4 linked regions of the Homo sapiens genome follow. The protein of the gene in region 4 interacts with the protein of the main gene of each other region in a pairwise test. Each region holds a gene or a part of one and is shown on either strand. Other genes may lie near its edges. The genes, in order: NPBWR2, TCEA2, ING5 and KRTAP10-7.

What was found.
Region 1: the proteins of KRTAP10-7 (region 4) and NPBWR2 interact in binary tests that used the Homo sapiens proteins (3 or more experiments, as listed by UniProt).
Region 2: the proteins of KRTAP10-7 (region 4) and TCEA2 interact in binary tests that used the Homo sapiens proteins (3 or more experiments, as listed by UniProt).
Region 3: the proteins of KRTAP10-7 (region 4) and ING5 interact in binary tests that used the Homo sapiens proteins (3 or more experiments, as listed by UniProt).

The regions. Positions count from the first base shown.
Region 1 is NC_000020.11:64,104,554-64,111,689, forward strand, and holds the start of NPBWR2 (neuropeptides B/W receptor type 2), read right to left. Parts: upstream 3,013-7,136; 5' UTR 2,811-3,012; intron 2,370-2,810; 5' UTR 2,279-2,369; coding exon 1,277-2,278; 3' UTR 1-1,276. UniProt on the Homo sapiens protein: Interacts specifically with a number of opioid ligands. Receptor for neuropeptides B and W, which may be involved in neuroendocrine system regulation, food intake and the organization of other signals.
Region 2 is NC_000020.11:64,058,255-64,066,198, forward strand, and holds the start of TCEA2 (transcription elongation factor A protein 2), read left to right. Parts: upstream 1-4,943; 5' UTR 4,944-5,058; coding exon 5,059-5,130; exon of another isoform or gene 5,131-6,098; intron 6,099-7,944. UniProt on the Homo sapiens protein: Necessary for efficient RNA polymerase II transcription elongation past template-encoded arresting sites.
Region 3 is NC_000002.12:241,719,019-241,726,038, forward strand, and holds part of ING5 (inhibitor of growth protein 5), read left to right. Parts: intron 1-464; coding exon of another isoform or gene 465-603; exon of another isoform or gene 604-957; coding exon of another isoform or gene 958-1,104; exon of another isoform or gene 1,105-2,789; intron 2,790-3,920; coding exon 3,921-4,056; intron 4,057-4,191; coding exon 4,192-4,253; exon of another isoform or gene 4,254-4,772; coding exon of another isoform or gene 4,773-4,773; exon of another isoform or gene 4,774-5,107; coding exon of another isoform or gene 5,108-5,108; exon of another isoform or gene 5,109-5,156; intron 5,157-5,640; exon of another isoform or gene 5,641-5,970; coding exon 5,971-6,013; 3' UTR 6,014-7,020. UniProt on the Homo sapiens protein: Component of the HBO1 complex, which specifically mediates acetylation of histone H3 at 'Lys-14' (H3K14ac) and, to a lower extent, acetylation of histone H4. Component of the MOZ/MORF complex which has a histone H3 acetyltransferase activity.
Region 4 is NC_000021.9:44,595,947-44,602,693, reverse strand, and holds KRTAP10-7 (keratin-associated protein 10-7), read right to left. Parts: upstream 2,098-6,747; 5' UTR 2,073-2,097; coding exon 960-2,072; 3' UTR 520-959; downstream 1-519. UniProt on the Homo sapiens protein: In the hair cortex, hair keratin intermediate filaments are embedded in an interfilamentous matrix, consisting of hair keratin-associated proteins (KRTAP), which are essential for the formation of a rigid and resistant hair shaft through their extensive disulfide bond cross-linking with abundant cysteine residues of hair keratins.

The sequences.
Region 1 (7,136 bases), on a different chromosome or scaffold from region 4:
AGGCCATGGTGAGGACTGTCGGCCACAGCAGGGGAGCACAGGCCATGGAGAGGACCGTCGGCCACAGCAGGGGAGTATAGGGGAGCACAGGCCATGGAGAGGACCGTCAGACACAGCAGGGGGGTACAGGGGAGCACAGGCCATGGAGAGGACCGTCGGCCACAGCAGGGGAGTATAGGGGAGCACAGGCCATGGTGAGGACTGTCGGCCACAGCAGGGGGGCACAGGGGAGCACAGGCCATGGTGAGGACTGTCGGCCACAGCAGGGGGGTACAGGGGAGCACAGGCCATGGAGAGGACCGTCGGACACAGCAGGGGGGCACAGGGGAGCACAGGCCATGGAGAGGACTGTCGGACACAGCAGGGCGGGTACAGGCCATGGCAAGGACCGTCGGCCACAGCAGGGGGAACACAGCAGCACAGGCCATGGCACATGGGCACGGCGGGGCTGGGCCTCCTGCTGGAACTCCACTTGGGCTTCAGGCCACGAGAGTGGATTTCTGGGTCTCATGCGGTGCAGGTGTCCGCCTTTGCAGCAACACAGCATCGCTGCTGCCTGAGGTGCCCGCACTTACCACCCCCCGGCCCCATCTTGGGGAGAGACTATGTAACGTGGCCCAGGTCAAGATCACAGTTCAGGTTCCCTCCCCTCCCGACCACTGTCATTAGGGATCCTGAGTCCCAGAGCCTTCCAAGGGGCTTGTCCATCTGTCTGTCTCTCGTGGGTAAGTGGGCCCGGGATGCTTGCTGTGTGGGGGCCTCTGCCAGGACCTGGATCCCTGCTGCTGTCCACCCAGGGGCTGTCCAGGAAGCAGAGACATGGGAGGTATATGCCCACGGCTGTCTGTAGGTCTGGTGGCCAGCGTGTGAGGGTCTGTGTCTCCTTGCGTGGAGAGGACAGCACTGGGATGTGAACAGGCCGGGCGTCCCCTGAAAGAGACAGCCGGAACTGGGTGGGGGTGGGCGTGATGATGGGGGTGATGGTGGGGGTGGTGGGGGGGGTGGGCGTGATGATGGGGGTGGGGGTGGGGGTGGGGGTGATGGTGGGCGTGATGGTGGGGGTGGGGGTGATGGGGGTGGGCGTGATGGTGGATGTGATGGGGGTGGGCATGATGATGGGCGTGATGATGGGGGTGGTGGTGGGGGTGATGGTGGGGGTGGTGGTGGGGGTGGGGGGGGGTGGGCCTGATGGGGGTGTGGGCATGATGATGATGGGCGTGATGATGATGGGGGGTGATGATGGGCATGATGATGGGGGTGATGGTGCCCAGGCCCTTCAGCACCGCAATATGCTGCGGAAGTTCTTCCGGAAGTTGTCATCTAGAAAGGCGTAGAGGAAGGGGTTCAGGCACGAGTTGGCGTAGCTGAGGCTGGTGATGACGTAGGACATACTGATGACCAGTGGGGTCTGGGGCAGGTCCGTGGTCAGGGCCACGACAGAGGCCAGGTGGAAGGGCGTCCAGCAGAGGAGGCACACGGCCAGCACGACGAGGACCAGGACGGTCACCTTCCGCCTGGCCTTGCCTAGAGCCTTGGCTCCAGAGCGGAGCCGCACGGCCCGCAGCCTGCGCAGGAGGTCTGTGTAGAGCACACAGATGGTGCACACGGGCAGCACGAAGCCCAGGACCAACGTGTAGACACGGCTGGCCTTGAACCAGACCTGCTCGGGCCACGGGAAGCTCAGCCCACAGCTTGGGACCTGCAGCTCGTTGCTGTAGACGCCAGCGAAAGAGAAGAAGGGCAGAACCAGGACCGTGACGCCCAGCCAGACACACAGGCTGGCGACCTTCGCCCCCCGGTAGGTGCGCCAGGGCATGTGGCGGGACCTCACGGTGGCCAGCACCACCAGGTATCGGTCCACGCTCATCACGGCTAGGAAGTAGATGCTGGAGAAGATGTTGTAGTGGTCGACGGCCAGCACCAGCTTGCAGAGCAGCTCCCCGAAGGGCCAGTACTGCAGCAGGTGCTCCGCGATGTTGACGGGCAGTACCAGCGTGAAGAGCCCGTCGGCGACGGCCAGGTTCAGGATGAACACGTTGGTCACCGTCTTCATCTTGGGCGCCCTTAGGATTACAAGGATGACGGCCGTGTTGCCAGTCAGCCCCACAGCACAGATCCCGGAGTACACGGCGGGCAGGAGCACATAGAGGAACGGCAGTGGCTCGGAGAAGGTGGCATTGTGGCCAGTGCCATTGTCCTGAGAGACGTTGGCACCCATCGTGGGGAGGGAGAAGGAGCCCCTGCTGTCAAGGGGCTCTGGGTGCCCAGCGGCCTGCATTGTAGCTGGGACCGTTGACGATTTGCGCCCTGGGCAGGTGGGAGGTGCCTTGGAGTTGGGTATCTGGTTGGGGGCCTCCTTGGGCTGGATTCTAGGAAAGAAAAACAACCAGAGACTTTGAGATCCGGCCGTCTGTTAGGGCACAGCCACTCCAGGTTCTCTGGCAGAGACTGCGGCCACTTTGCCAGGTCAAGGACATGGGGCCAGAGGGAGCCTGGTGGGGTGTGTGGGGGCCTCCTCCCGCCTCTTCCTGGTGAGACTTCAGCAGATCAGTTCCCTCCTCCCGCAGAGAGCAGCTGCTGGCCACCCTCCTGGGAAGAGATGTGGATCCGTCCCTGCCCCAGCAACCCGCAGATGCACGGGCTGCGTAGAATCAAGCGGTCCCTTTGGAAACACACCTCCCAAGCTCATCTCTGGCTCCCTTGAATCTGAAGGTCCTTCCCTCAGGGGTCTTGGAGTCTGCACCCTCCCTCACACCCTCCCGAGAGATGCTGCAGACCCTGCTGGTCCAGCTACTCTTCTCTCCACTGACCTGTCCAGTGCTTCGAGTCCAGAAGTTGGTAGCCTTGGTGTGTTCCTGGTTTTGGCCAGTACAGGCAGTCGCAGGGATGGAGGGCGAGGTGTGGTCCTCACTGACAGACCTCCAGCTGAGGTTTCAGGAGTTTCAAGACCTGCCCTGCTGGCTGCCTCAGCCCCGGCTGCGAGGTTCCCAGCCTGGTGTCAGTGCTGATGCTGGTGAGGGAGGGAGGCGGATCCCCCTTGCTGACGTGGAGCCCGGAAGGCAGGCCCCACCTTCCCCTGAGCTGCAGTAGCGCCTGCAGTCGGCTGTCCCAGGGTCTCCTCAGCATTCACTTACCCAGGCAGACTCCTCAGTGGGCGGCTGAGGCACGTGTGCGCCTGTGTGTCAGGAAGGGACTCCATGCAGGGGCCTCTGGGTGTGCCCAGGTCTTCGGGCAGAGGGCACTGAAGGCATCTGTGCCTCTGTCCGGGAGTCACTGTGGGCCTGGGCACCCTTATCTGTGAACATGGGTGTCTTGGTGGGTCTCCTGCCCCACCCTGTGTGTGTACATGGTGTGTTCCTGTGTGTGTGTGCCAGTTAGGACATGTACGTGTGTGGGCCTGTGTCTGCCTGTATGGGGGTCTCTGTGGGTGAGCTCTGCGTTGTATCTGAGTGGGTCTACATGTCCTTGGCTGAGTGTGGGCATCTGGGGGGTCTGTATGCCCTCATGTGGAAGCAGAACTTGTTGGCCATAGGCAACCCACCTTCTTTTTTTGTCTTTTGCTAAAAGAGGAACTCAGCCTAGGCAAGCTGTGAAAGGCTGCAGAGAAGACGTTCTCACGCTGACACGTAACTCTCCCGCCGTCCTGCAGAGGTGGTGAGCATCACACTCTGCTCTGGGTTGGTCTTTAAGTCCTTCCCTTCTCCCTGCTTTTCTTCCTTGCTGGACGCACCCTGGCTTATCCAACCCGTGTGTGTGCAGCTCGGCCGCATCTGGACCTGCTTTGCAGGCAACGCCACAGCTGACACGAGCAGTCGCCAGTCTCAGAGCCGCTCCTCAGCGGAGACGTGTTGGGTCAGAGGGTCTGTGTTTTCTTTCCTTTCTTCTTTTTTGAGACAGGGTCTTGCCCTGTCACCCAGGCTGGGGTGCAGTGGCACTATCATGGCTCACTGCAGCCCTGACCTCCCTGGGCTCAGGTGATCCTCCCACCTCAGCCTCTCAAGTAGCTGGGACTACAGGCATGTGCCACCATGCCTGGCTAATTTTTGTGTTTTTTTTTGTAGAGACGGGGTTTCACCATGTTGCCCAGGCTGGTCTCGATCTCCTGAGCTTCAGCCTCTACCTCAGCCTCCCAAAGTGCTCAGGTTATAGCCATGACCCACCGTGCCTGGTCACTGTGTGTTTTCAGTCTGGGGAGATGTGTCTGCCCATCGAGACTGTGCCCGCTGCCTGTGGGGTTGCAAGGATGTCACCGCACACTCATGGTCGGCCTTCTTTCCTGAGAGTTGCTCTGTCAAGTCTATTGGTTAGGACAGGAGCCTGGGCAGTCGCCCTGAGTACCCTGATGTCGCCAGCCTGAGGGTACACTGTGGGTGGGCCCCGAGCTACCCTTCTATGGGCTGTGCCATGTGGATGTTGAGTCCGGGGTCAGGGAACCCTGCTGAGATATCTCACACTCCTCTTCAGCCAGTTTGGGGATGGCGGTGGGGGGGATCTGTGGGTGTGTCTCGAGGGAGCGTGGGGCTTGTAGCCACAGTTTGTCACATAAGTGGAGCTTGACGCCCACAAGGTCAGGGGATGGTGATTAGCAGCCGTGAGGAGAGGGTGCATTGGGGCTGAATTTTGTGATTTGGGGTGTTCGTGGGGTCGGGAGGGGTCAGTTCACAGCTCCTGGAAACCAGAGGCGTGACACAGAGAGGCCAGGCCTGGCATGTGGTGGCCCAGGCATTGACCAGGGTGTGGGCTGGGCCAGGCGGTCACTGGTCTTGGCTGGGGAGCGGCCGACCATGGCCTCAGCACCGGGCACTGGGAGAATGTCCCAGGCCTGCTGTCACCGAGCTGCTGTCCTGGGGTGGGGCTGGCCACGCTGGCCTGATTCTGGGCCTCCCTGGGGGCCTGCTGTCACCGAGCTGCTGTCCTGGGGTGGGGCTGGCCACACTGCCTGACTCTGGGCCTCCCTGGGGGCATTGCTGGGGGCCTCTCCCTTCCATGCATTTTGGGAGGGGCCCAGGCTAGTGCCGGTGCCTTCCTCTGCCCCCCAGGGCTGGCTGGCAGCCTGCCCAGTGACCCCCGTGTGGCCTGAGCTCTGGGCACCCCTGCTGGTCTTTGCCCTGCAGGATACCGACTGCCACCCACACCTTCTTCAGAGCAGGGTGTTCCAGGAGGGTCTTCCCTTAAGCCTCAGTAGTGGGGAGCCCAGTGTCAGAGGCATCCCTCAGAGCACAGAATCTTCCCATGCAAAGATCCCACTGTGTGTCTGGCTTCCTCTGAAGCCAACCACGAGTCTGGGTCCTCTTCCCTCCACCGGTATCTGGTGAGTCTGGGAATCGGAGCCCCTCCCAGACTCTAGCTCTGCTCTCCTGAGCCTGTCCTGAAGGCTGGTCTGGCACCACCGCCCGCCGGTCACATTGGAGGTGGGGTGCGCATGATGGAAGGGATGGGGACCCTGAGGGCAGTGGGGATGGGGGAGACTGCCAGGTGCTGAGCTCAGGACCCCGGGGAGGCCGGCTGGAGGTGTCAGGTCCTCCTGGCCACAAAAGCAGCAGCCCCAGGGGCCTTTTCCTCCTCCCAGAAGCACCTCACCGATGCCCGCTGCAACACCAGGGCCTGAGCCGGGGGTGCTCCCCCGTCTGTACCCCCAGCACTCAGGGCTCAGAAAGGCCCTTTGCTCTGTTCGTGGGCTGGGCATTGTTCCAGCCAGCTGTGAGCTTGTGAGAGCATCGTTCTGTGGAAATGGTTTCCATTTTCAGAAATAAATTGGCCTTTTCAAATGAACCTGTGAGGCCCTTTGGGTGAAGAGAGGAGAGGCCAGGGAGGGAGGGAGCCGTGGTCAGCTCTGTTGGGCAGAACGGTGGTGGGGGCCTGACAGCAAGGCCACTGACATGGCACATCCTCTGTCTGGGGTGTGGGGTGAGGGAGTGATGGGTGCCAGTCAGTGTGCATCTGAGCATTTTGTGGGGCTGCGTGTGGGGGTCTTGCAGGGACCTGAAGGAGACCCCTAGGGCAGGGGCCAGGGAGAAGCGCCAGGACCCTGGGACAGCCTGAGCAACACACAACATAGCTGTGCTGGCTTCACGCTTGTTGCCGCTTCACATAGGTGTGGCAGCTGCCCTCCACCTGTCCCCCTGTGTGCAGGGACACCTGTCCCTCAGTCCGTGCTGCGACTTGGATCTTCACACGGGCATGCATATGTGTAGCAGGCATACAGACCCAGAGATTCATACAGACTCCAGTGTGCTTGTTGACCATCTCATCTCCAGCCAGGCAGGCCCTGGTAGGAGGGGTGGATTCTGCCCTGTGGCCAGAGTCCAGGCCTGTCTGCCCTGCTCTCTCTCCTCCATCAGCTCTCCAAGATGAGCCTCAACTGTAGCTGTGGCCCTGCAGGTTAAGTCCTCCCAAGAGGCCTAGGCCATTAAGACCAGTGAGAGGGCCGGGGGCGGTGGCTCATACCTGTAGTCCCAGCACTTTGGGAGACCAAGGTGGGCAGATTGCTTGAGCCCAGGAGTTCGAGACCAGTCAAGGCAACATGGTGAAACCTCATCTCTACAAAAAAAATACAAAAGGCCGGGTGCGGTGGCTCACGCCTGTAATCCCAGGACTTTGGGAGGCCGACGTGGGCAGATCACCTGAGGTCAGGAGTTCAAGACCAGCCTGGCCAACATGGCGAAACCCCGTCTGTACTAAAAATACAAAAATTAGCCGGGCGTCATGGTGGGTGCCTGTAATCCCAGCTACTCGGGAGGCTGAGGCAGGAAAATTTCTTGGACCTGGGAGGCGGAGGTTGCATTGAGCCGAGATCATGCCACTGCACTGCAGCCTGGGGGACAGAGCGAGACTCTGTCTCAAAAAAAACAGAAAAACAAACATTAGCTGGGTATGGTGGTGCATGCCTATAGTCCCAGCTGCTTGAAAGGCTGAGGTGGGAGAATCGCTTGAGCCCAGGAGGTCAAGACTGCAGTGAGCCGAGATCGTGCCACTGCACTCCAGCCTGGGTGACGGAGTGGGGCCCTGTCACAAGGAAAAAAAAAAGACCAGCGAGAGTTCCAGGCCTGGTGTTCTCTAAGCAGGTAATTGGGCAGCTTAGCTCTCTCGAAAGAGATAAGTAATTCAGGGCCAGTTTCCCTCAGAGTGGGAGGTGA
Region 2 (7,944 bases), on a different chromosome or scaffold from region 4:
ATCCACACCTGTCCGACCAGGCTCCCCACGTGCCCTAATGCAGCCCCGTAGGCTGGGCCCACGGCTGACACCCCTTCCTGAGGGATCCCCGACCTGCCAGCCGTTGTCCTTAAGACGCCACAGCATCTTGACCTCCCCGTCTGCAGCCTCTGTGGGCCTCCACTGGGACCCACTGAGACATGTCAGGCTCCTCACGAGCTCTGTCTTGTGTGGCCATGCCCAGGGCCCCAGGACGTAGAAGACCACCTGGCATCTCATGGAGGAGGAAACAGGGCCCAGAGTGGGACCTCCACTCAGGCTCAGCAAGGGCCGAGTCCCAGTTCCTGGAGTCCTAGTTGAGGCCCCTCCTACACAGAGCACAAGGTGGAATTCACGGGGTCATAAAGGCAGCCAGTTCTACCAACACACAGTTATGCAAATATTTTCTTAAAGTGTGATATCAAAACCCAAGTGCTTCTTTACCAATCTGCTGAACAAGATGTGACTCACTGAACAGCCTCTGCAGTCCCAGCAGCAGCGAGTGTGGGGGTGCGAGGCAGTTCCCATCTGTGCCGGGTCAGCCACGGGCCCAGCTGACCAGATTTGGTTCATGGCCTCGTTCATAACTGAACGAACGACACCTTTCTGCTAGAGGTCGGTATAAAGGAGATGATGGGCCGGGCACGGTGGCTCACACCTGTAATCCCAGCACTTTGGGAGGCCGAGGCGGGTGGATCACCTGAGGTCAGGAGTTTGAGACTAGCCTCACCAATATGATGTAACCTCGTCTCTACTAAAAATACAAACATATTAGCCGGGTGTGGTGGCGCATGCCTGTAATCCCAGCTACTTGGGAGGCTGAGACAAGAGAATTGCTTGAACCTGGGATGCGGAGGTTGCAGTGAGCCAAGATCGTGCCACTGCACTCCAGCCTGGGCAACAAGAGTGAAACTCTGTCTCAAAAAAAAAAAAAAAAAAAAAAGGAGATGATGGTTTCTTCCCACCAGTTTATTTTCTGTCAGGGGTTTGGTCTCTGGGTCTCTGACCCCCTGGATTGTTGAGACGCCTCGCACTGTTCCCTCCCATCTTGCCCGACCGCCCCCCACCAGCTCCCAGGCCCAGTATGTCTCTGTCCCACCCCATCGTCTCTATAGGCCCTGTCCTGCAGTGGGTTCTGTCCCTCCCTGCAGCTTGGTAAGGTTGTTGAGGCTTCAATACACACTCCAGACCACATCCCTCTCCCTCCCAACTCTGGGACACTCTCTGCACCTCTGAAAAGAAACTCCCAGCCCTTCTTGTGCCTCTCCCTTCCTCTGGGCACCCCTTGTTCCTTATCCATCCTGGCTGGCCTGTGGCCTGTACTTCTGATCTGCACACAGGTATCACAGAGGACAGAGACCCCAGGGCCCCAGCCCCTGGTGGGGGCGGGGAGTGCAAGGGGGCAGTCGTCTTTGTTCTCGACCAGCTCCCAGCTCCCTAGGTAATGCTTTAAGAGTTACCGTGCTAGGGGATCTTTGTGGCTGAAAACATTCAGATGAACCAGATATTTAAAAGCATCCCTCATGCAAAGTCCCTCCACTGGTTGGGCCGGCCTGGGGAGGGTCAAGGCTGGGTCTCTAGTCTGGTTTTCCGGGGGCGTCTGTGTGCACTCCTTCCCCAGAACCTTGCGCTTGTCCATCCCAGGGAGAAATCAGGTGGGGAGCGGCCTCACTGCTGGCTCCTTGATAGTGACTTGCTCCAGAGGTCCGTGCTGATACCCCAGACCCCGCCCCACCAACACTTCAACTGGGACTGCGGCGTATGCACAACTGCACAGCCTCCTCTGGCAGCTCCTTGATGCTTCTGGGACGTTGACCCTCTCTCCTTTGCACCTCCACTCTTAGGAACTTGCAGCTCTCTGGGGTTAGTTCTCCTCTGTGCTGTCTGGGCTGCACCTCCTGCCCAGGAGGGGCCTCTCTGTGCTGCAGCCCTTACCAGCATCTCAGGATCTGCAGTCCTGATACTTGGAGGTCTCCCCCCCACCCCCAGCTTGAGGGCTGGCTTCCTTTCGGTGGTCTTCAAATCAACTCACACTCGGCCGTTGGAGAAGCCTATGTGTCTGGCCAGGCAGGCTCCATGGATGTGGCCAGTGTCTTTGTGGACGGTGGGAACCAGCTTTGAAACCCTGGCCGCCCGGACCTCCGAAGCCAAACTTTCTGGGGTTCCTGCACAAGGGCAGTTCCAGTGTGGCTTCTACAGGACCCTGACCAGCTCCTTGGTCTGGCTGTCAGCCATTGAGACAGTGGTTGAAGGCTGGGTGGCTCTAGCCTCCCCTCGTGCCTCTGATGAGGCTGGACCCTTCAAGTCTTCATATATGCCCAAACCATGGGATTCTGACCACGAGGACTTGCTTGGATGGTCTAGGCTGGAAGCTATGTCCCCAGCTCACTGTGAGGGGCAGAATCAGTCAGTATGGAAACCGTGTTCATCTATTAATAATAATAATAATATAATATCGCGGGGCCTCTGTCTTAGAAAGGCTTTGCTCCTCACAAGGAATTCTATGCTTTTTCCCTATGATTGAGCTTTTTTTTTTTGCGACGAGTCTCACTCTGTTGCCAGGCTGGAGTGCAGTGGCATGATCTCGGCTCACTGCCAGCTCCGCCTCCCGGATTCAAGCGATTCTCCTGCCTCAGCCTCCTGAGTAGTTGGGACTACAGGCGCATGCCGCCATGCCCGGCTAATTTTTTTTTGTTTTTTTGTATTTTAGTAGAGACGGGGTTTCACCCTGTTGCCCAGGCTGGTCTCAAACTCCTGAGCTCAGGCAGTCCACCTCCCAAAGTGCTAGGATTACAAGCATGAGCCACCGCGCCCAGCCTGAGTCTTTTTTTTTTTTTTTTTTTTTTTGGAGACAGTCTCACTCTGTCACCCAGGCTGGAGTGCAGTGGCACAATCTGGGCTCACTGCAACCTCCGCCTCCTGGGTTCAAGTGATTCTCCTGCCTCAGCCTCACAAGTAGCTGGGATTACAGGCATGTGCCACCACGCCCGGCTAATTTTTTTTTTGTTGTTGTTTGTTTTTGAGATGGAGTCTTGCTCTGTTGCCCAGGCTGGAGTGCAGTGGCATGATCGCCGCTCACTGCAAGCTCCGCCTCCTGGGTTCATGCCATTCTTCTGCCTCAGCCTGCGGAGTAGCTGGGACTACAGGCGTCCGCCACCACGCCCGGCTAATTTTTTGTATTTTTAGTAGAGATGGGGTTTCACCGTGTTAGCCAGTATGGTCTCGATCTCCTGACCTCGTGATCCGTCTGCCTTGGCCTCCCAAAGTGCTGGGATTACAGGCATGAGCCACCATGCCCGGTCTAATTTTTGTATTTCTAGCAGAGACAGGGTTTCACCATGTTGGCCAGGCTGGTCTGGAACTCCTGACCTCAGATAATCCGCCCACCTCAGCCTCCCAAAGTGGTGGGATTACAGGGGTGAGCTACTGTGCCCAACCAAGATGAGTCTCTCTCTCTCTTTTTTTTTCTTTTGAGACGGAGTCTCGCTGTTGTTGGCCAGGGCTGGAGTGCAATGGTGCTATCTTGGCTCACTGCAACCTCCGCCTTCCGGGTTCCAGCAATTCTCCTGCCTTAGCCTCCCAAGTAGCTGAGATTACAGGTGCCCGGCACCACACCTGGCTAGTTTTTGTATTCTTTGTAGAGACGGGGTTTCACCATATTGGCCAGGCTGGTCTCGAACTCCTGACCTCAGGTGATCCACCCGCCTGGGCCTCCCAAAGCGCTGGGATTACAGGCATGAGCCACTATTGCCCGGCTAAGATGAGTCTCTTAACTGACCATATTTTCCTTTTCATTTTGGCTGCGGGGAAGCTCAGTTATATGTGATTAGTGCCACAGACAGCCCAAGAAATGCTCAGCCCATTCCACCTGCCACCTGGCCTCATAGTTCGTTGGCCTGAACTTGAATGACTACAGGCTCCTTGATCCACACCCTCCCCCAGGATTGTGCCCTCTCCAGGAAACCACCCAGCATCTGCATTACTGGGGAGCTGCCAGGCAGTGGTGGGGATGCTGGCCCTGCACCTGTCCCCGTCCTCAACCCTCCCTAGGCCTGGGCCATCTCTCTGGCTGCCTGCAGTCTGGCCCTACCTAGGGACCTCCAACAACAATGTCAATGAACACTAATTGTCATGCTCCATCCCCTCTCTGTTCTCAGGCATGTGATGTGAATCAGCTGACATCATCTTGACGGGAGCCCTGTGAGGCGGACACTTAACTCCAGTTTCACAGGTGGGGAGACTGAGACACAGTGGTCAACGTGCAGAGCCCAGAATCTGCTCCCTGGTAGCTGACTTTGCAGGCAGGGGCCTTGCCCACGCAGCCTCGGCAGAGGCCCCCGCACTTCGCGAACCCCAGCAATGGCCCCTTCCAGACGCCACGTCCAGCTACCGCGCGCTCACACCTGCAGGGCCCCACAAGAGGCCTCCCAGTGTGCGCGGGCCTCTTGAAGAAGTAACTCTACTCAGAAGCCCGAATGACCCAAACTGGGCTCTGGGAGGCTGGGGACGGCCTTCTAGGCCAAGTGGGGCGCGCGCAGGGCTCAGCGGGGCCCAAGAGAAGGGCTGAGGGCACTGGGTCCTGAGCCACCCACCGAAGGACGCCGCGGGACAGCAAGGCCCGAAGCAGGAGGAGAGAAGGGAGCAGATTCCTGGGCCTCCTGGGGCCCGGTCGCTCCGGGATGTCTGAGCTCTGGGAGGGGCGTGCCCGGGGCGCCTCCCTCGCGGGGTATTGTGGGATCACGAGTCACTGGCGACGGTGGGTCAGGACTACACTTCCCAGGAGGCTGTGCGCGCCGCGTGGCGCCTGGGAGTTGTGGTCCAGAGCGCGGGCGCGGCGGGCGCGGCAGGCGGGCGCGTGGACTACGCATCCTAGGATGCCGCGCGCGGCCGCGGGGCCGAGGGTTTGAACCGGGGGTCTGTCGTCCGCGGCGGGGCTGCGTCGGCTGCGGCGGGTGTGGGAGGTGGCGACGGCCGGGGCCGGGGTCCTGCCCGGCTGCGGAGGCGGGCGCGACGGGCGCGGGGGTCGCTGCTCCTGAGGCGATGATGGGCAAGGAAGAGGAGATTGCGCGGATCGCCCGGAGGCTGGACAAGATGGTGACCAAGAAGAGCGCGGTGAGGGGCGCGGGCCGCCAGGACCCCGGGAACCCCGCCCCGCCGAGACCCCGTCGAGCCCGCCGACCCCCGTTAGGGCCGGAAGACGACCTGAGGGGCAGGACGAGACCCCTCCCCGGCAGAGACTAACCGGGACGCAGGGGAGACCCCCACCCGTGGCCGAGACCCCTGCCCCGGGCCAGCCCTGCCGTTCACTCCCGCAACCCCGGCAGAGGCCGCGATCAGGCCTGGACCTTGTCCCGGGAGAGCCACCCGCTCTGGACTCAGACCCCTCCCTCGCCCGCAGTCACAGGCTCCGCACCCTTCCCTGTCCCTTAACTCCAGACCCCCAGCCTGGCCCGTCGACTCCTTCCTTGGCCCTGTCCCGCCTCTCGGAGCCCCCGGGGTGTTCGGGCCTCCTCTGCGGGCCGCGCCAGCCCCTTGCCTTCCTCCATCCCGGCCTGGGCATCCTCACAGGCCGAGCCCCGCCCCCCAACTCAGCCCTCTCCCACGCTCCGTCTCTTACAGCGTTTGTCACCCTCCGTCTCCCATAGCATTTGTCGCCGGCAACAGTTTGGAGTCTGAGGTTGGATCCCCTTTTCTTCTGGAGCTTCCGTGCCTCCCCTGCCTCTTCCCAGCCCTTGTCATCCTCCTTCACAGGCCAGCCAGATACCTGTCTTGCCTGTGGGCCCATTTTCTTCCCTGTCTGTCCCCACCCCACAAGAACCAGGTTTCTCTAATAAATTCTCTCCCTTCTTTAGCCAGGACTTAGCCCGCAGCAACTTGGGTTGTGGGTAGTTATGTGGACACCCTCCGAAAAGAGCCGGTGTGCTTATATAAGAGCCAGGAGGTCGGGCAAGCCTCCTCTGGGAGTGTCTGGGCGCTGGAGCCTCTGGCCGGCTCTGTTCACTGCGGCCTGGGCCTCTGTTGTCTTGCGGCCACAGCGAGACTTTGGAGGAGGCTGTGTGTGAGGACTTTGAAGGGGCCAGGTCAGTGGGGGTCCAGTTCCAGCGTCATGACCTTGGCAACCTCTGCACCCTCCCACAGAAGCATCTTTAGAGGATGCTGCCTGCCTCCTGGGGGGTGGGGAGGGGTCTGGCCGCAGGTCATTTGGAGCTCCTGGCTGGCTCAATAAACGTGACCTGTGCTTTCCCACCCAGACTGTGAACTCCTGGGGCAGGGCCAGCTGTGTGTCTGCCAGGCCAGCCCAGGGCGGTGAAGGTGGCTGAGTCATGGGCTTTGGGTGATTTGTGCAGCCACCCCAGGGCTGTGTGACTGCAGTGGGGGTTTGGGGGAAGCTTTTTGGGCTGAGCAGGGTTGAGTCTGGGTTCCTGTGACCAGCGTTCTGGACTGGGGTCTGCCCTGGGAAGGGGTGGGCTCCCACTCATTCCTGCTGGGTGCAGCACCCCCATCATTGCGTTCACACACACCCCGGAAAACTGGTCAGCACAAAGTAGGGGTCTGCGAACCATTCATAGCTGTTTCCAGAGATGACCCGAGAATGGAGTTGTTCCCCTTCTTAAAGGAGACAAAACACAAACGATAAAAGCTGTAGGTGGGAGAAGCAAAGATGGGTCATGGAGCCAGGGGAGGGCTGGGTGGGGCTGGGCAGAACTGATGGGGGGTTTCTGGTGGAAGAACAGCTTGAGTAGAAGCCCCAGGGGAGAATGAGGAGGGGAGGCGGGCGCTGTGCAGTGGGGAGTGGGAGCCAGCAGAGCCTCCTGGGGGTCCCAGTGCCTGAGGTCCCCTCGGGGACCTGGGGGCCAGGTGTGGGGGTTTTTTTGCCTCTGGACCTGAGCCCACTGAGAGCCACGTAAGCAGGTGCAGGGCTTTCAGGGGACAGTGGCCTTGGCTCTGGCTATCACCTCAAGGCTGGACTCTGTACAGCCCAAGAGGCAGGGCCTGCCTGGGAGGGCTCAGGAGGGGCTGCAGCGTGAGCAGACTATGCCACCCGGATTGCTGGGGTTGTGCGGGCGGTAGGTGGGACAAGCCCCTCCCATGGCCTGTGGGTCGTGGGACTCTGATCAGGTCACCTTAGGGCAGAGGGAATGATACACACGTGGAAACACATGCACGTGTTACAGAGGAGATGGGGTGTTGCAGGGCACAGTTGCAGTTTTAAACAGGAGAGGCCTTGCTGAGAAGGTGTTGTTGAAATAAAGCCCGGGAGGGAGGGAGGGAGGGAGGGAGACGTTGTGGGAGGCCGCCCCAGGCGGTGGAGCTGCAGGTGCAGAGGGCCTCGGTGGCGGCTCAGCGCCCTTGGGGAGCACTGAGTTGCCGGGCCTGGTGTGGAAATGTGACCGGTTTGTGCCTGGCCTCGTCAGTGTTGAGGACCTGGAGGAAACGCAGATCTTGGGTGGGGAGACAAGGCGGAGAGAACGAGGTGCATTGGAACAGTCCAGGCGAGGGGTGCTGGCCTGCTTGGGGGCAACTCAGAGGCCTGGAGGATAGATGAGGAGGGGGGCTGTGGGCCTTGTAGGTGTTGGCTGTGGCCGTGCCTGGAGTGGAGGGACCCTTGAAAGTTTGGCCTCAGCTCGGGACACTGATGTTCCCGGGTTGGCCCTTCATGAGAGTTTGGCCTCAGCTCGGGACACTGATGTTCCTGGGTTGGCCCTTCACAGCTGGTGGGCGGGGGGTGCTTTGGGGAGAGGCTGCCCTGCGCATCAGGGCATCAAGACACAGGGGAGTGAATGAACCTGGGGCTGCAGTTTCACCTGGGTGTGGCCCTGGCTGCTGGGGAGGGGCCGTGGCTCTGAAGCCTCATGATTGGCCAGGGGAGCTGGCATTTCTGTTCTGGTTTGGGTCAGTGACCTGAGGTGGTTACAACGAAGTCAG
Region 3 (7,020 bases), on a different chromosome or scaffold from region 4:
GTCCAGGCCAATAGGGCTGGGGGCCTGGGGCGGGGCAGGGTCTCAGCTTCAGCTCCACCGAGGCCCCTTGAGGACCTTGAGGTTTCCTCTCTCGCCTCCTGCCCCAGCGGCTTCCACAGTTGGTAGAAGTGCGGGGGAGGAGACCAGCGGTGCCCGAGCAGACCCCTTGCTCGAGAACTCCGAGGTTGCAGGGATTTTCCCTCTGCTTTTAGTTGCTCTGTGCAGCCTCTGGACTATAAATGTCGGTGGGGACGCGGCCGCCATGTGTGGCTGTGTGGGCTCAGCGTGGCCCAGTGGCCAGCCCAGCCCTCACTCAGTGCATGAGGCAGGCGGACGCCGCCCCCAACCCCCCAACACCCCCCACTCTGGCTGCAGGTCATCTAGCTCTTGTTGCTCCACAGCTCCCCGACATCTTTGAGAATGTGGTTTTTGTGACTTGCTGGGTTTTGTGTTTTCTAACTCAGTGGCAACAGCGTTCTGAGTCTTCCTGCTCCTTCCTGCTCGGAACCTGAAGGCCCTGTCCCGACCGTGCCTTTTCTGCGTGAAAGTGGGACTCCTCCTGGTCTCTTCCTCACCCAGTGCTGTTTCTCAAGGGTATGCTAGGCATAAGGAATGCAGGCACTGGGGGTCCTCGTGGGGGTGAAGGAGACTCCAGCTCCCTGTTGGGGTCGGGGCTTCCTCCCTGAGGGCTCTGCCCAGCTTCAGAGACCTCAGGAACAGCCAGCACCTCTGCAAACACAGGAAGATCCACTGTGGCCTCATGGCTTTTCCTGTCCTGACAGTGCGCTGACCAGCACTGTTTAGTAGCAATGCGGAGCCTGGGAGCTCAGCGCTGCCTGCCGTGCAGGTCCCAGTAGTGACAGATGAGAAGGGTGATCACCGATGGCGACAGTTGCGGGGCCCTGCGGCTCTGGATCTAGCTTGTGTGTGAATCTCTTTCTTCTCTGTGCCCCCAAGTGGCAGTGCTGCTCCTGTCCCATTGCAAGACGTCGAGACAGGCTGGTAAGGCCAGCTCTGAAGCTGGGCTCTGACGTCCAAGGCGCCAAGGAGGCCCCTTCCAGAGGGACAGGAGGATGGTGCAGGTGGGCAGACGGGTCATCCTGAGGACCAGTCGGTTGGACCCAAAGCCTGGCCTGCCGGGGCGGGAGTGTGCACTCGGGTGCCTCCAAGGGCATCATCCTGGGTGTGTGCAGGAGCCCGCCTGCCCCTGGGCTCTGGAGTTCTGTGGTGCGCGTCCCTGACCCATCAGCACAGTGGGTATTCACGCCCCTCGTGGTCACGCTGTGGTGCCAGGCCGCTCTGCCTCAAGGCAGGTCCTGTTCCCTGCTGGGGACCCAGGCGCACGCACCATCCTGTCCCTGTGGACTGCCCTCTTCAGGCCTGTTCCCCACGTGCCCGGGGCTCTTCCTGGAATGCAGTGTTCCTAGACTGCACAGATGCTCCGTGTCTCGTCTGAGATCCCGTGACCTGAGGCTGCCCCCTGCACTGTTGCTGCCCTGTGGCCTTGCTCTGGCGAGGCAGAACCTGTGTGTGTGGATGAAGGGCAGTGTCACCTGTAGCACCTGGAATCCCGGGGCTTGGACAGGCAGCCAGCCCCCTGCTAGGAGCCACGTGGAGTGCTGGGAAGCCATCGGGGCCGGGCGCGGAAGGGCTCGCTGGCACCGTCTGGCGAGGGGTGCCTGCCACACCCTGGGGAGTTAGCACAGAGGGTGCCTCTTGTGGCAGTGGTGCTGAAGGGAGTCAGCAGCCGCTGACAGTTGGGGTCACCCTGGCCTGTGCAAGGGACAGGGCTCCCCATGGCCTCCTGGTTGCCTCCCTCAGGGCTGATAGCAGCACTCCCTGGCCACACGCCATGGCGCTCCCTCAGGCGAGACTGAGAGGCCAGTGAGGCCTGCACGGTGGCCTCAGCTTCTGGGGTGCCCTTGCTGGGCGGTCCCCTCAGGCCCCCGGCCCTCTCCCACAGCCATCAAATCTGGCCAGCGCCCTCGAACCTGGTGATGCTGAGACACAGGTCAAGTGGCAGCTCAAGATGTCAGGTCGGGCTTTGTGGACAGAATTGGACTCGGCGCAGAAGAGGAGGGCGTCAGCGTTTCGGGGACGGTTGGCAGCAGAGGGTGCTGCCCTGCTCTCCGCGGGTGAGAGGTGACTCGAGGAGACCGCAGGAGCCCCTTGGAGGTGAAGCCACAGGTGGCATCCCGGAATCGGCAGGAGGCTGAGACGTAGACCCTTGCGTGCTGCTGTCAGAGGAGAGACCCGAAGACTACTTGAGACTGTTGCTTGAAAGCAGTGTCGGCAGCACCTGGACCTGGACTTGTGACGCTGATGGATTTCAGCTCTAAAGAGAAACCCCTGTCTATTCCCAGACAGAGAGAAAGAGCAGAAGAGCAGATTACCTGCAAAGGACAGACTTAGGTGGGCGCCCCTGTGCCAGAGGGCAGCGGGGAGGCCGGGTGCATGCTGAGCCCGAGTGTGTGTGTATGTGTACAGGCAATTGCAAAGGCGTAGAAAAGCTTTAGACAGGTATCCAAGGAAAAGCTGAGTGTTGATTCCCTCTGGGACCCAGACTTCTGCTCCTTGGCTTTCCCTGATCGTGACTGTTTTTCTCACGGCCACGTTCCTCCTGCTAACCTGCTGTGTTTACATACCAACTAGATATTCGTGGGTTGGAGGGTGGGATAGGGAAGATACTTTTTCTTTCTGTACTAATGGGAATACACTGTCTATAGTACCTGCAGCTTGTAAGTTTATTTGAAAAATACTGAAATATAAAAGCGTAAATTTCCCCCTAAGTGCATCCCTTTCAAACAGGAAAGTCTCCACCTGAGGTCTGTGGTCCTGGTGGGACGGCCATGGTGCTACAGGTGGCAGGCTTGGAGGGAGGCATAGACGGGGTGGAACACCTGCCAGGCTGCTGTGTAGAAACCCACGTGGGAGCTGATGGGGATGAAGGAGTGACAAGGATGGTGTGTGGTCGGAAGGGGCCCTGTGCCAGGTGGACAGCTGGGTGGGTGGTGGGCGGTCCAGGGAGTGTGTGGGGAGCTGCTGGTTGAGTCAGTATTGGGGCAGAGGTGCCTGAGTAGGTGCGTGGAGGGCCCGGGCGCAGGACGCATGGCTGTTCTCTTGGGAGGAGGTCACAGTTACGGGAGAGCTGTTGACTGTGCGGGCTGCTCTGACACCTGTCAGTCTGGAGTGGGAGGCTGGCAGGCTTCTCTCAGGTGTCAGCCGTCTGCTGGCAGAGGTGACGTGTGCTTGTTTCCAAAGGGGCCGGGGTCTTTGGAGGGATGGCCCAGAAGTGGGTTGAGTCCAGAGGTCCCCGGGGGAGTCCTGTCTGGGAGGAGGGACCGAGATGAGAGTGGACTCGTCCCCAGAGTGGGACCAGAACCCCGGTGCTGTGGGTGAGTGCTGCGCTTCACGGCCTCCTGGGGGCCCTCTGTGCCCCCATGCCCCTGCCTGGGCCCGAAGGTGGGCGCGAGGTCTCCACCCCTCTGCTGCCAGCTGCTGCTGTTCCTGGATTTTTGTGGGTAACTGTTCTTTCTAGCATCAGCTGACAATCTGTTCGTATACTTAATGATTTTCTTGCTGCGCCTTCTTAGAACATTGCGTGTTCAGAGGGGTTATTGAGGTTTTGAAAATGTGTGCTCCAGGAAGAAAACGTCCACAAGGTGTGTATTCAGTTAGTGCATGACTGCAGTGGCTGGCCCTGGAGTCGCATTCATTTCTAAAGGACAATGGGAAAAATGGAAGCAAGCTTATTCATTATGTGTCGCTCAGAGCACGGTACCAATTTCCCCCTTGGAATGATTGTCTTCACAGTTTTGGGGTGAGGGGGCCTTAAGTCAGAGACAGAAGGGCCCGTGGTGTCCGTGCCGCCTCACTTCCCACCATGGCCTTCAGTGGTGCCTGTGCCCTGTCCCCTGCAGGTCTGAGTTCACTGACACCATCCTGTCCGTGCACCCCTCTGATGTGCTGGACATGCCCGTGGACCCAAACGAACCCACGTACTGCCTGTGCCACCAGGTCTCCTATGGGGAGATGATTGGCTGTGACAATCCAGACGTGAGTGTCGCCTGCAGGATTCGCGCCATGGGGCGGGGTCTTGTGTGGGGCAGGGCTGGCGGATGTTGGCATTTCTTGTGTTTTGCATACAGAACATGAGGCGTGTTGACTGCGGTTTCTCCCTTTACTTTGCAGTGTCCAATTGAGTGGTTTCACTTTGCCTGCGTGGACCTTACCACGAAACCCAAAGGAAAATGGTGAGTGTGGGGACGCTCGCTCTGTTTTCTCCCAGTCTGCTGGGTGTTGCGCTGCTGGCCTCCCCAGGAGAAGGTGCTCCATGGCAGAATCTTGCCGGGCTTAGCGGGACACGGTAGCCACGTAGGCATGCCCCACTGTGGCCTCAAGGAGTGTGGCTGGCTGGTGGCTGCTCTGGGTGTGGCTTTATCCCCCCTTTGCTGCTGTGCCTGTCCGAGCTGGCAGAGGGATGCCGTCACCCAGGAATGGTGGTTACCAGGTTACGTGATATTCACGTTAATGGCCCCTCCTGAAGGACAACCTTCCGGACTCTGGGAGGTAGGGATCGTCTTAAATCAGAAATGAGAGGTTCTTGTCCCCTAGGGAAATTTGGGAAATATAGCATGAGATGTGAGCCCTGAAGCCGGGGCATGGATCTGGGGCTCTGCCCCTGGCTCTGTCTAGTGGAGAAGGGTGTGTTTTCTCTACCTGACCCTTGCATCCCCTTGGCAATGGCAACTTTCTGCATTGTTGTTCCTCAGATTTCATTTAAATAAAAACCTGTAGTCTGGGCAACATCGGGAGACCCCAACTCTACAAAAAATACAAAAATTAGCTGGGCGTGGTGGTGCGTGCCTGTGGTCCCAACTACCTGGGAGGCGGAGGCGGGAGGATGGCTTGAGCCTGGAAGTCCGAGGCTTCAGTGAGCTGAGATCGCGCCACTGCACTCCAGCCTGGGCGAGAGAGCAAGACCCTGTCTCAAATAAATAAATAAAAAGATAAAAACCTGGCTTTGTTTGCCTGTGCTGAAAATCTAAAAATGGATATCTATGTTCTGAAAATGAAATCGGAATGTGCTCTTCTGTGTGGCACTCAGAGGTCATCGTGGCAGCGTGTTTGAAACTCCGGCAGACTCGCCCGAGTTGGTAAGAGCCAGTTATCCTTGGTGTTCGGTGTGAGGACACAGGGAAAGGATGCCGTGTCTCGGAGGCTGGCCGAGCTCACGGTGTCATGTGGCGTCAACACAGGCTGTCCTGTCACAGGGACACATGGCACTGTGGTGCCCCACGCCGTGCGGCTGGGGGATGGTGCACCGAGGGTTTTGAGAAGGGGTACGGAGGCTGTTAGGGCGGAGGGCCCTGGGCAGGCTTGGGCCTGGGCCAGGCGGTGGTTGACGGTTGCCGTCATGCGAGTCGGCTGCCTCCTGCGTGGGGAACCTATGGAATGTCCTCTGTGGTCAGCAGCTGCCTCTGTTCAGGAGCCCCTTGTGCGTGCAGCTCCAGAACTTGCTCAGAGTCACCAGGGAGCACTTGTGAGACGGCAGCTTCCAGGGCCAGTGCAGGGTGCCTGGCTGGGTTTCCGTGGGCCTGAGGGGCTGCCATGCTCTCAACGCGTGCTTGGTACCTGCAGCCCCCACAGACTGCAGACAGAGGGCACCAGCGACCCTGCCATCGGCCGGGGAAGAAGGACCCACCTGTTAAGGAGGAACGCCTGGGTGTCAAATCGGTTTTGCTCATTGATGGTGTATCTGTCAGCTTCAGAACCGGCGTCCTGCATAGAGCCGCACGTGCATCGGCGCATTTTCCCTGCGGGAGGGCCGCGGCCCCACTGCGTGTGCCTCTCCTGGTGCCCTCCTGCCGGCGTCCAGCAGCCCTGGGAGACATGGGGAGGCGGGCCCTGGGCACCCTGCGCGCTGGCGGAAATGGCGCCCAGGGCCTCACTGCGCCTTTCTTGTCACAGGTTCTGTCCACGGTGTGTCCAGGAAAAGAGGAAGAAGAAGTAGGAGGAGCTGTGTGCCCGGATCCGAGGAGCAAGTTAATCTGTCCCTTCATTCGTGTCGCAATATTTCCCTTCCTTTTAAAACTACCTTGTTCGGTTGATACTTAGTAACTCCGTGGCCAGTTGAAGCGCTGGATGTTTCCTAGAACAAGAACCACCAAAGCCTGTTCGCACAGAAGGGCGACCTTGCAGGGACTCGCCGCCGCGACCTCAGTGTGGCTTTTACAGGACTCCCCCCGAGCATCAGCAGGGACCCCGGCGGACGTGGGCGGGCGCGCGTGAGCTCGGGCTGCCCGGCCGGGCGTGCGGGCGGGGACATGGTAACCTGGTCCACGGAGGGCGGCCGCCACCCTCGCGTAGCTTTCCTGTGGTTTTCCAGGACTGTCCGGTACAGCCCGGGCTCCGCGTGCCCCGCCCGCTGGAGCACCTGCCACCGAGGCGCGCGTGGGGCCACTGCCGTGGCGGCGGCTGCCCTCCTCACACTCGGCTCCGCGCCGCCTCCGGCCACCGTGCGCTCCCGCGTGGGGCGCCTCGGATGGGCCCGGGAGGGCTGGGGGCTCTTCCCTGGAGGAAGCGGCCTCCGCTTCGCTGGCGCCGCCTTTTTAGCTTGGACTTCAGTCCTCCCTCGGGGACTCACCTCCGGAGTAAACGGCTCTTCATTAGCTTGGAGTGGCCGCAGGTCCCGTGACCAGCACCCGCGAGACCCTGTGCGACAGCTGGGCTGATGCTCCGTTTCTCTGGGAATTGGTGATTTTTTACTGTGAAGATGAAATTACCCTAATAGCATGAAGATCGTGGGTCTGTGTGTCCGTGAAGTGAGTCCCGTCTGCCAGGAGCTGACGAACCACGAATGCTTCTGCCTGTGCTGTGCATTCCCAGGCCCGCAGCTCCCGGTCGAGGGGACTCCGATGTGAATTTGTTGTGAATTTGTTGTGCCACAATAGCAGTTCTGGAATGAAGCTAGGAAACTCGAGTGTGCTTTTTGTTTAATGAGCGTTCACCAAGCTGAGC
Region 4 (6,747 bases):
GGACTGGTCACGTGAGCAGCTTCTGCCTGGGCTACGCCAGAATTCCAGACTCCCAGCAGGGATGTGGGTGTTCGGCCTAAACCACATGGTACAAACAGCTCAGGCCCAGTGAGGCGGGGCCGGGGGGAGCCCCTCGGAAATCCCAGTTCCCAGACGCCAGCCAAGGGCCAGCCCGGCCAGCGGGCCTCAGGATGGCCGTCCCCGCCCACCGTGTGGACCCATTCTGCACACGGCCATGGGGTTTCCTTTCTGGAGCCAGGGGCTGGACACAACCCAGTTTCTGGGGAGGCCCCAAAGCAGCCCCACCCAGGGCAGGCGCTGCTGTTGGATCCCTCACCTCTCCCATCCCTCAGTCCTGCCTACCCCTCGGACATCCGTGTGGTGAGGCTGGTGCAGGGCTGCCAGGACGCCTGGGAAGGACAGGGACCTCGTGGCGTGGGAGCAGCCCAGGACCACCCGCGGGTGGGGGGCATCAGGCAGGGGTCTTTGGTTGTGAACAACAAGAATGAATTCCAGTTGTACTTTTTAGGAAAGGAGTTTATTAGAAGGGTCTGACCTGCTCCCGTGGTCAGGGAAGACAGAGAAAGAGGCCCAGGCCCACAGCAGGGGAGGAGCAGGGCTCGCCACTGAGCTGGGACAGTGACGAGAAACCCAGTTGGTACCTGTCTACCCTCATTTCTCCCCACACCGGGCTATGGCCTGGGAGCACCCGCTGGCCTTGCTGGGGTCACTGCCCACCTGTTGCTGGGGAAGCAGGGCTGGGTAATTGGGGGAAAGTCAAGACTTGGAGAAACAGCTGAGCTGCTTCTAGGAGGAGAAGCGCACACTGGATGGCCAGCTGACCACTGACGTCCACTGCAGGGCTTAGGAGCGGGATGTGGAGAGCCGTCAAGGGTAAAGAATCCAGGGGTGCAGGTGGCAGTGAGCACTCAGGCTTTGGATGATCTTAAGGAGATCACTCAGCAGCTGGACTTCTGGGTTGAGGTGGGGCCACAGCAGGCCGGGCGGGAGCATGCGGGGCGGCAAAGGAGAGACACACAGGAGGCTGGGCGGCAGCAGCTGGCCTGGCAGGAGGAGGTGGGGGCGCAGCAGGAGGGGACGGGCACGCAGCAGGCGGGCCTGCACACGGGGCGGCAGAGGAGGGACACGGAGGAGGAGGGTCTGCAGCAGGAGGTGGTGCAGCAAGCCGGCTGGCAGCTAGACTGCTGGCAGCATGAAGTGGAAGCCCCAGAGCAGACGGGCACACAGCACACAGGCTTACAGCAGACGGGCACGCAGCAGCCCTGCTGGCTTTGGGAGGAGGTGCAGCAAGCTGGCTGGCAGCATGAACCGGAATCATCAGAGCAGGTGGGCACACAGCAGACGGGCTTGCAGCAGACAGGCACACAGCAGGCCTGCTGGCAAGGGGAGGAGGTGCAGCAAGCCGGCTTGCAGCTAGACTGCTGGCAGCACGAGGGCGTGCAGGAGCTGATGCAGCCTGATTGGCAGGGGCTGGGCTCACAGACCGCCTGGCAGCAGGGACTGGACACACAGCTCACACAGCTAGACTGCTGGCAGCACGAAGAGGAAATCCCAGAGCAGACAGGCTTGCAGCAGATGGGCACACAGCAGGCCTGCTGGCAGGGGGAGGAGGTGCAGCAAGCTGACTGGCAGCTAGACTGCTGGCAGCATGAAGAATCCCCACTGCAGACAGGCACACAGTACACAGGCTTGCAGCAGACAGTCTTGCAGCAGACGGGCACGCAGCAGGCCTGCTGGCAGGGGGAGGAGGCACAGCAAGCCAGCTGGCAGCTAGACTGCTGGCAGCACGAGGGCGTGCAGGAGCTGGTGCAGCCTGATTGGCAGGGGCTGGGCTCACAGGTCACTCGGCAGCAGGGGCTGGACACATAGCTCACTGGGGTGCAGACCAGGCTCAGGCAGGGGGCCGGGGCGCAGCAGGGGGGCTCGCAGCAGCTCTCTGGGCAGTCGTCCACCTGCCAGGAGTCGGAGCAAGAGTCACAGGAACCAGGAAGGCAGACGCGGCTGCCGTAGCTCAGGTCGCTGGAGCAGACAGACATAGTGGACGCAGCCATGCTGGGGATTGAACTGGAGGAGATGGGAGTGAGTGGGTGAGTGAGTGAATGAGTGAGTGAGTCCGTGTGTTAGGTGCTCAGGGATGTTGGCTTTTATATGTCTCCCTGGTCTGTTGTCCCAGCTGGAGTGTCAACAACTCCTGCCCCTTCCTTGTTTGTGTTTAAAACCTAGAGAACGCTTATTAGTGCGAGTTTCATGTTTAGTCCTATGAGATGCCGTTCAGTTTGTAAAGTCCTGAGTCTATATTTGGTTCCGTTGACGCACCCTCACCTACCTTTGGCTCCAGAGCATAATATTGAAGTAGACAGGGTGTAATGTCTGCAAATAGAGTGTCCCAGGGGCCTGTGCTGGCTGCAGGAGAGATCCATCCATCCTAATCCCAGCGCCTGTGGGCCATCGCCAGGGGACTCTGCTTGTCTGGGTGGCTGTGGCTTCTGGAATGCCAGGCTAGAGAAGCCCCTGTCAATGATGGCATGAGGGTGGAACATTCCTAGAAGTGACTCCCCACACTCTCTCTGGTGCATAAAGTCCCCCCAAGGGCTTTAGAGCAAGTGGCAAACGGGAAAGGGTGGACAGTGGTGTGAGCCATTTCCCGTCAGGTTCACAGTAGTTCCTGGGGGGCCGTGCACCCCCTCTTCCATCTGGGCACTTAGGGAGGCCCCAGATCCCTGTTTGGGGCCCCCATTTCCATTTGGTTTTATCCCAAGCACTGCAAACCTGTAAGTCTAACCCAGAACACCTCCTCCGCAAAAAGCACAGCCACTCTCAACAGCACTGCCGTGTGAAAAGCAGCAAGCACTGCTTTCGCTTGCAGTGTGTTTTCTTGATTGCCAGCTAAGTCCTTGGTCACCCCAGCTAGACATCTGATCTAAGTCTCCATTTCTTCTGCAAATAATATCCAATTGGCCACCACATCTTTTTGGTTGTTTCTGCTAAATGTTTCCAATTGTATCCGATACTTTTACTTCTCAAGCATTCATTTATTCATGATGCAGTGAGTCCTCCCACATGCTGGAAATTGCACCAGGTGCTGAGAATGTGAAAGTGAAGGGGTAGTAACCCTGACTGTGGACCCCACCAGGGAGGGAGGTGGGCTGCTTGGTGCCTGGTGATGTCAGTGATGACCAGCCATAGCCCAGCATGCATGCGGCCCTGAGAAGTGGCCCCTACCCAGGGGAGAGGGCTCCAGGGGCCCTTCTGGTGGGGTTTGATGCCCAGGCAAGTCTCAGAGGCTCAGGGTGTCCTGTGTCTCTATCTGTGTTTCCCAGTCCAGGCCTCTTAACTCCTAGGGGATTTAGGAAAAGTACAAAAGGCCTCAGAGGGCTAGAAATTCAGTTACACGGTGGGATGAATTGTCTTTCTGTATATTTTGAACTATAAAAATAATATAAATTTGAGCATGGCCTGGTCCCTCCAGAGGTACAGGATCTGGTCCTATGGGATGGAAGGAGAGAGAGAGAGAGAGAGAGAGAGAGAGAGAGAGAGAAAATGGGGGCCTCTGCTTCCATATGGGACAAAGTAGCTATGTCAGACATATACTCCTGCTGAGAACAACTTGAAAAGCTGAACAAAATGTTTTAAAAATGATTCCTTTAAAGCTCTCCTAAAAGAGCTGTTGAAGAAACTAAAGGTAATAGAATGACATCTTTAAAGAGCTGAAAGAAAATCACTGCAAACCTAGAATTCTAGACCAGGAAGAACATTGTTCAAAGGTGAAATATGAAACAAAACAATTCTGGATAACAACTGAGCAAACTGAACACGAGCAGACCTACTCTACAGTAACTATGAAAGGGGATTTTTTTAGGCAGGATGACGGAAGGATAAAAATGCAGGAAGGAACCAGGAGGATCTGAAAGGGTAATATTATTATATTTATAATCTCTTGTGGGGTCTAAACTAGAAGTAGAAAAGTAATGCATGATGACATTAACAATAAAAGGTGAGAAGGATAAATGGAGTGAAAGTTTTCTAAGGTTTCAGCATTGTTTTGGAAGCGGCGGAAGTGCTGACATATGTTACACTTGAATAATCTAAGAATGTGTGCTATAATCTCTAAAGTGACCACGGAAGAGATAGTAAAAACTATGTATAATCAATGTATAATCAATAATGTTAGAAATAAGGCTCAGAGTCGTAAGGAAAAACGAGCACTGAGACAAAGGATTTCTCAGCAAAGCAAATGTATGTCTGTGCAGGAGGGTGTCTCCCATATGGCTGGTTGCCACGAGAGCACACAGAACAAAGGAGAGTAGAAGTTTTTATTCCTAACGTGATCCTGCCCCTGTGTCCTTTCCCCATTGGCTGGGATTGCGCCGCACAATTTAAACTAGACCCGATTGGCTAAACATTTAAACTTTCTTAGATAAAATGGATGCATAATGGGAGAGACGGGAGAGGAGGAAGGGGTCATCTACGGGAAACTAGAGAGCCAGTCTTTTCCTAAATACAGAACGGAATGCGAGCTGGTGCTGATAATGCTAGTGATGTTGCGGCATGCCTGGGCATGTAGTAAAGTCAGAAAGAAGAAAAGGAGAAGAAAGAGAGGGGGCGGGGGTACTAGGAATTAAAGAACAAAAGGTTGAGCAGCCTGTTTGAAGAGAAGCCTTGCCTTATCTCACGAATAATGAATAGAACAGAAGAGGGAAAATAAATAATAAAAAATACTTGATTAATCCAAAATAGACAGGAAGTGATTTTTAAAAGAAACGTTAAAAAATTGGGACAAATAGAAATTGTACAGTCAGATGGCAGATAGATATAAACTAAATCATCAGTCAATAAAGTATCAGATATTCCAATTAAAATATATTGTTGGTCTGAATAAAAAGTAGAAAACCTAACTACATGCTGCTTACAAGATACAGAGCCTGAATACAAGAGCATAGAGGCCATGTGCTGTGGCTCGCACCTGTAATCCCAGCACTGTGGGAGGCTGGGGCAGGCAGATCACCTGAGGTCAGGAGTTTGAGACCAGCCTGGCCAACGTGGTAAAGCCCTGTCTCTACTAAAAATACAAAATTAGCCGGGCATGGTGGTGGGCACCTGTAATCTCAGCTACTTGGGAGGCTGAGGCAGGAGAATCGCTTGAACCCAGGAGGTGGAAGTTGCAGTGAGCCGAGATCGCACCACTGCCCTCCAGCCTGGGCGACAAGAGTGAGACTCCATCAAAAAAAAAAAAAAGAAAAGAAAGAAAGAAAAAGAAAAAGAGCACAGAAAGCTTGAAAGTAACAAGATGGAAGAAAATACACCACACAAACACTAACTAAAATGCTAGTGTGACTTATGAATATCAGAAAAAGTAGATTTTAGAGCAATAGAGATGAAGAAAGAAATGTATAAAGCTAAAAGAGTCAACCTACCAGGAAGATGTAACAATTCTAAATCTGCATGTATCTAATTACATAGCTTAAAATATAAAATTAAAAAATTAAAATAAAAAACTGTTTTTTAATTTTTTTAACTGGCAGAGCTAAAAGTAGAAATAGAGAAAAGGGAAAATCATAGTGGGGGATGTTAATACACCTGTCAATAATGATAGGAAGGGAAAGAAAAATCATCTCAGAGTGGAAAGGGCTATTCTAAGTTTTGAGTAAAACACCGAAGCCATTTAAAAAACCGATAAAACTAATTATGTAAAAATTTTTAAATTGCAGGAGAGAAAACATTATAAACCAAGTCAAAAGACAACAATATGGGAAACACATTTCCTATCTGTATATCAGAGAAAGGGCTAATTTGCTTAATATCCAAAGAGCTCCCACGAGTTATTAAGATCAATAACAGAAACATAACAGAAAGTGAGCAAAGGATACAGAGACAATTGAAAGAAATATACATGGTTCTTAAATGAGAAAACGTGCTCAGCCCCATTTAAAATGAGATAAAACAAATTTAATGGCCATATGATATCATTTTTTATATTGGAAAAAATGAAAACCATTGATGTTCCCAACATGGGTTGGCGAGGGTGTGGGCAGACTACCCAGATGACTTGCTGCTGGGCTGAGGTTGCTCCACGGCTTTGGCAGGCAGTTTGCTGCTACACATCACAATTCAAAACCTCATGCCTTTAAGCCTGAATCACTAAGCAAGCATCCTGTAGATACTCCTGGGTGGATACAAGGTATGTGCAAAGGTATCACAGCCATGACATTGTCCAGACAGCGGGAGACAGACTCTAGGGTGGCCCCATGTCCCTCACCTCCTAGTGGTCACTGGCTGTGTGCCCCACACTCCTTGAGTGTGGTTGGGACTGTGACACGTGTATAGACACAAGGAGCCACAGAGAGGGTGATGGGATGTGCATGATCCCATTACATAAGGTCATAATGCTCGTCTCGGGAGGACTCTGTCTCCCTGGCTAGCTGTGAAAAAGCCAGCACATTGCGAGCTGCCCGTTGAGGCCGCATGGAAAGAGATGATGGCAGCCTCCAGTTGACAGCTGGTGACAAACTGAGGCACTTAGTCCAAGAAGCTACAAGGAACTGAGTTCTGCCAACAATCACATGAGCTTGGAAGTGGATCCTTCTCCAATTGAACCTTCCCATGAGACACTCCAATACAGCCCTACAGAGACCCCAATTTAACTGTGCCTGGACTCCTGACCCACAGAAACCGAGATGATAAATGTGTGTTATTTGAAGCCACTAAGCTTGTGGTACTTTGTTCCAC